Regions from separate parts of the Homo sapiens genome. Here region 1 is linked to region 2. The links come from fine-mapping of genetic effects on gene expression. A gene starts in region 2. The other region holds a variant in brackets. All regions are shown on one strand. Distances are between the middles of the regions. Region 1 overlaps TCFL5 (transcription factor like 5). Region 2 holds the start of COL9A3 (collagen type IX alpha 3 chain).

Region 1 (2,899 bases), 30 kb before region 2:
CCCTGAAGGTGCCAGCCACTCCTGGGGCCTCCCTTGTGGTGTCTGTCCCTCCCTTCTTCACACCAGCAGGTGGTTGAGTCCCGCTTCGCATCTCCCTGCCATCTGCATCAGGCCCCGGTGTCGCTGTCCCTCACGTGCTGTCTGTTGTCAGGCCCTGCTGCAGACTCGGACTGGCCTGTCCCTTCTCTCCTCCTTTCCTGCGGACACGCTGTGACTTCTCCCGTGATCCTTCTGTGAGAACTCCCTGGACCTCGTGTCCTGTACTGGCAACCGCCCATTTCTCTGCTCTCCTTGGCTGCCCGGCTGCCCGGCGCTTGTCTGTACCTCCTGAGCCACTTCATCCTCTCTTGGATCCATTCCCAGCAGCCTGTGATCATGGCCTCCCATGCCGTTTGGTCACGCCACCACGCCCAGCTAATTTTTGTATTTTTAGTAGAGATGGAGTTTTGCCATATTGGCCAGGCTGGTCTCGAACTCCTGACCTCAGGTGATCCGCCCGCCTCGGCCTCCCACAGTGCTGGGATTACCAACGTGAGCCACCGCGCCTGGCCTACATACGGATTTTCATTCTGTTTTTGAACATGGCCACTGGAGGGCCTCTCGGCTGCAGAGCAAGCGTTTGTAGCTTGTTCGTGGCAGAATGAGCCGAACGCTGTGTTGTGACCTGTTTTAAAAATAAAGCATCTTGAAAAAGAAAAGCCATTCTTTTTGTCCTAATGAGTTTATGCCTCCTTACCTCTGGCCACCTGAGCTCCTTGGTCTGCTGTACCCCTCTGGCCTGGGCCGTGCTGGAGTCTTTCTGGGGCTCAGTCATTCACTTTGTTGGTTTTTTATGTGGGGTCAGTGGTAGTGCTTTTTCCATCATAATTTGCTCTTATCTTTATTATCCCAAAACCTTATTTCTATTATTTCCTTCTTGAAGTTTTATTTTTTTCTGGTATCTTGGGTTGAAAGTTTATTTTGTCTATGTTGTTTTCTAATCAATGCATTATAGTAAATTTGTCCTGGTGTGCTTTTGAAACATTTCACAGGTTAGGACACAATGCTTTCATTGTTTCTCAGTTTTAAATAGCTTGTAATTTTTTTTTTTTTTTTTTGAGATGAAGTTTCACTCGTTGCCCAGGCTGCCGTGTAATGGCGCGATCTTGGCTCACTACAGCGTCTGCCTCCTGGGTTCAAGCAATTCTCCTGCCTCAGCCTCCTGAGTAGCTGGGATTACAGGCATGTGCCACCACCCCGGCAAATTTTGTATTTTTATTAGAGATGGGGTTTCTCCATGTTGGTGAGGCTGGTCGTGAACTCCCGACCTCAGGTGATCCACCCACCTCGGCCTCCCAAAGTGCTGCGATTACAGGTGTGAGCCACTGCACCCGGCCGCTTTCTTCCTCTTAATAACTTCCTGGTATATTTTCCTGACT[C/T]ATAGTTAGAGCTATTTCTTTTTTCTTACTAAGAAAATTTTTTTTATTGTTGGTATTATTATTTTTCTTTTTCTTTCTCTCTTTTTTTTTTTTTCCCAGCGAGGGGCCCTCATTCTGTCACCCAGGCTGGAGTGCGGTGCAACCACAGCTTAGTGCAGCCTCGTCCTCTTGGGCTCAGGTGCTCCTCCTGCCTCAGCCTCCCGAGTAGCTAGGACCGTAGGCGCCCCTCACCACCGCACCCGTCTTGTTGTTATTCTTCTCATGTTCACAAATCTAACATGAGTATCTGCTTTGGGACGTTGTCATCTCAATGTTTTGATGTTATAAAAATTCCTTTAAAACTCAACGATTTCACATATGTTCTGTTGCAAATAGATGCATTTGGATTGAGGTGCAGATTGAGAGTGCGATGACATCAGTACCACGTCTTTGGCCTGGGCTCAGCTGAGGAGGACTAAGGGGATCTGCTCCTCTCTTTCACAGCTGCCCCAGCTCCCAGGAGACGGGTCGTGGGCGGGCCCTGCAAGGGTCCAGATGGAACCACAACTCAACCCTGCCTCTGCCCAACTGTTCATAGTGAAGGCAGACGCCGGGACTAGCCTCATCACTGTGTGAAAATAGTTCAGAAGATCTTGCGAGCGCCTAGTTATGTCTGAGGATGATTATTTTCTTCCTTCCTTCTTTTTTTTTAAATTATCGTCTTTTAAATTTAGATGGATAATTAAGAATGCTTCCAATTTAAGGTTCTAAGCACAAACTCCAGATACGTCATGTTATGGACTTGCTTCCTGAAGATGAAATCAGCAGTTGATGGAAAGAATCCACAACACGCCTACAGAACAGCAAATCACAAATGGCTGTGTCTCCACGAAGCCAGGAGCTTTGCATTTGAAGTTTCTATCTGGGCTCATTTCCAGCTGTTCAGGGTTCGGATTCCTGAAGGCTTCCTTAGCATTTAACTCATTCTTTGTTGACTGAAGGCACTGGCACTGTTTCTCCACACGCAAACTGATCTTTGTCATAAATCACTTTTATAATGAGAGAGCAGCCTGGACACATTGCCACACCTTCCCCATTCTCCAGCTCTTCCTTGGTGATGGAGAAGTTATCTCCGCATGGGCAGGGACAGAAATATGTCTCCGAGTCCTCGTCATATTGGAAGTCCTCGATTTCCACCTCGTCATGAAATACTGCCATGGTCAGCGGGGGTTGCTGAAGGGGTGACGCCCCAGCAGTCCGAGACCAGCTCCGAGGGTCTAACTTCTCCGGAGCCGGCCCAGGCTCTGACTTTCATTTAATTGTCCTGAAAGGTGAATTCTATCTTGCCAAATAGGCAAGTGTTTTTTATATGTAGGCTTTAGGTGTCAGAATATAGGAAATTATCAAAATGTGGGGTCATTTTAAATTGCATCCTAAAACCTTTTAAAATTTGGGAAGAAGCTGGGCGTCGTAGCTCACGCCTGTAATCCCAGCACTTTGGG
Region 2 (2,862 bases):
GCCCCTGAGCCCCCGATCCCTACCTAGAGGGCACCCTCCCATGTGTGGGGCAGCACTGGGCAAAGGGGTGAACTGGACAGACTGGAAGGAGGCTGTGGCCATTGAGGCCGAGCTGGGCAGGGGGGCAGAGGGTGGGTCATGGGGGGCTCTTGGTGCAGCCCTCCACAGCCCTCCACGGGGACCACACAGCGTGGACAGGCCCTGAGGGGACTCCTGCCCTGGTGGTGGTCACATGGGGAGGTTCACCCCAGACGGTCCCTCCGAGGGAGGCACAATTGTAGAATTTCAGCCGCCTCCTCCTGCTGCTTGGCCCACACCAGTCCTGAGATACCCATAGGGGACATCATCTCAGGACTGAGTCGGCTCCTAAGCCCCCTCCATGGCTGGCTCCAGAGCCCAGCAGCCTCCAACAAGACCCCCGGCCCCCAACCACCCAAAGGACGTGCCTCTCCCCACTTCAGCCAGAGGCCAGAACCCCGAACACAGGGGCACGGGCCCCTCAGGGGACCCAGAGACACACACCTCAGTGCCGGCATTCTGGGTGGAGGACCACCACATGACACCCTCCACCCCTACCCACCAGCAGTCCCCGCAGGGCCACCCCCATCCCGTGAAGGCACTGGCTGTCCCCTGATGTCACCCCGGCTCTGGGAGGTGGGGCCTGGTTTTCTCTCCATCAGGCCGGGGAGCTCAGGGAGGTGGGGGCCAGAGCCAGAACCCCAGAGCGCTCGGGGCCCTCCCCACCCCCAAACTCACGTCAATGCCGTCCTGGCCGGGCTTCCCGGGCGGCCCTGGGGGGCCGGGGGGGCCGGGGAGTCCCACTCTCTGAAACGGAGAAAACTCATTAAGGAGCGCAGGTGCCCCCGTGGGCCTGACCCGGCGTCCCCTCCTCCCGGGTCCCGAGCGGCTCCGGGGCCTGCGACGACCGCCGCTCTCCTCGGTGAGACCCAAAGCCTCGGGCGGAGCCCGGCGCCCCCGCGCAGTGTGTCCCCCGCCTCCCTCCGGCGGCGGGAACAAAGGCCCCCTTGTGCTCCCAGAGGAGGCGGCGGCGCCGGCCGACCCGGGCCAGCGAGGACCCATCGAGGACGCGGCCGGACGGGGCTCATCCCGAGGCGCTGGCGACTCCGCGCCCCGACGGCGACACGGGCTGGGGGCGTCGAGGCTGCGCCGGGCACCCCGGAGTGGCGGGTTCGGGGCTGGGGCGGTCGCGGCTCCACGTCCAGCCTCAGAGCCCGGAGCTCGCGCTCACCTGCGCCCCGGCGGCCGCCAGAAGCTCCCCGAGCAGGAGCAGGAGCAGGAGCGGGGCGCACGCGCGCGGCCCGGCCATGGCTGAGCGGAGTCTGAGCTGCGGCGTCGGGGCGGGCGGCGCGCGGGCGGGCGGGGCGGGAGGTGGGCGGCCCCTTCCCCTTCCCCTTCCCGCCCCCGCCTGCACAAGCCCCCCATTCAGCCGGGCCCACCTGGGCGGGGGGGCTTCCACCCGCCCCGCGCCGCCGCCCAGCCCGCCTGGGCGAAAACAAAAAAGACGCCGGGCGGGCGGCGCGTTCTCTCCGGCCGCGAGTTAAAATTATCCTGGGACTGGCGCGTTGCACACACGCAGCTTTGAGCAAGAGAGAAAGACGCTCTTTTCTCTCCTTGCTCCTCAACCCGAGTGTGGGGGCGGAAGCGCGCGGCGCTGAAGGGCCGCCTTCAGGGAGGGGCAGGGGAGACCCGCGAGTTTCCGAAGCCGCAGACCCCTCCCCAGGCGCCGGAGCGGACCCAGGCGACCCAAGGCCCAGGAACACCCCGGGGAGGGTGAATCCCCGGTACCAGGGCCCGGTCAGTGCCCAGCGCAGCCCTGGTTCCCGCTCCGGGGTCACTGTCCAGCGCTGCCTGCTGGGCTGGGAGCACCCCCACCGCGGCCCCTCACCCGTGGACCTGGACGGGCCGGGTGGTCAGGCCACGTCAGTTGCTACCGGCTAAGACCAGACTCCAAACCCAGACTCCCAGGAGAGATCGCAAAACGATGACCCTGGCCGAGGGGAAGAACCCCTCCCCGGGATCCCCGGCCTGAAGGAACCGTGCCCTGGGCAGGAACCTGAAGGCGGTGCTGGCCATGTCCATTTCCCAGAAGCTCAGGGGTCGCCAGGTCCGGCCAAGCTCTGCCTCAGGCTGCCAGGGCAGTCGCTGCCCTAGGGGACTCAAAGCTTCCAGTTGCCTGTAGGCTCAGTGAAGGCGCAGATGCCAGCCCCTCCCCCAGGAATCTTGAAAATTCCCGAGAAAGGCTGCCCTGGGGGTTGTAGGGGGCTGCAGGAGCTTCCTTTCGGCAGGTGGGGACTCATGACTGTTGCAATGCTGTGAGTTAGCAAGGGCGGGAGGGGATGAGAGGGGAGTGGGCGCAAAACTGCTCAGCAGGAGCACCGCACTCTGGCCGGGCGCAGTCAGCCTGGCGACAGAGGGAGGCCTCATCTCTACCAAAAATTGAAACATCGGCCGGGCGTGGCCAGCTTGGAGACAGAGGGAGGCCTCATGTCTACCAAAAATTAAAACATCGGCTGGGCATGGTGGTGCTCGCCTGTAGTCCACGCTACACGGGAGGCTGAGGCAAGAGGATCGCTTGAGCCTGTAAGGTCGGGGCTGCAGTGAGCCAAGACGGCGCCACTGCACTCCTGCCTGGGCAAGAGAGTGAGACCCTGTCTCAAAATAATAGTGTCGCTCTAATCTCTCCCGCGGTGAAGTGAGTGGAGGGAGATTCTCCCTTCACTGCTGGGTGAGCGCGGTGGCTGGGCTGGGAGGGGTGTGTGCGAATTCCATCAGGCGAGGTGGGAGGAGCTGAAAAGGCCCACCCTCCTGAGGAGTCCAAGTCATCCTGGCACAGAGCTTCCT

Evidence for each region.
Region 1: its variant is fine-mapped to the expression of COL9A3 in whole blood (INTERVAL, PIP above 0.99).

Annotation. Positions count from the first base shown.
Region 1 is chr20:62,845,380-62,848,278 of GRCh38, reverse strand. All of the region lies in intron 5 of TCFL5 (transcription factor like 5), which reads left to right. It also overlaps the pseudogene DPH3P1. Among named protein-coding and RNA genes, the nearest start is that of TCFL5, 15 kb to the left of the region's middle. RefSeq lists an enhancer at 448-742. The variant C/T (reference allele first, on the strand shown) is at 1,419.
Region 2 is chr20:62,815,530-62,818,391 of GRCh38, reverse strand. It overlaps COL9A3 (collagen type IX alpha 3 chain), which reads right to left and starts at 1,342. Exons shown (of 32, transcript NM_001853.4): 1 at 1,250-1,342; 2 at 757-825. The coding sequence starts at 1,327. RefSeq lists enhancers at 1-413, 1,102-1,787, 2,476-2,862.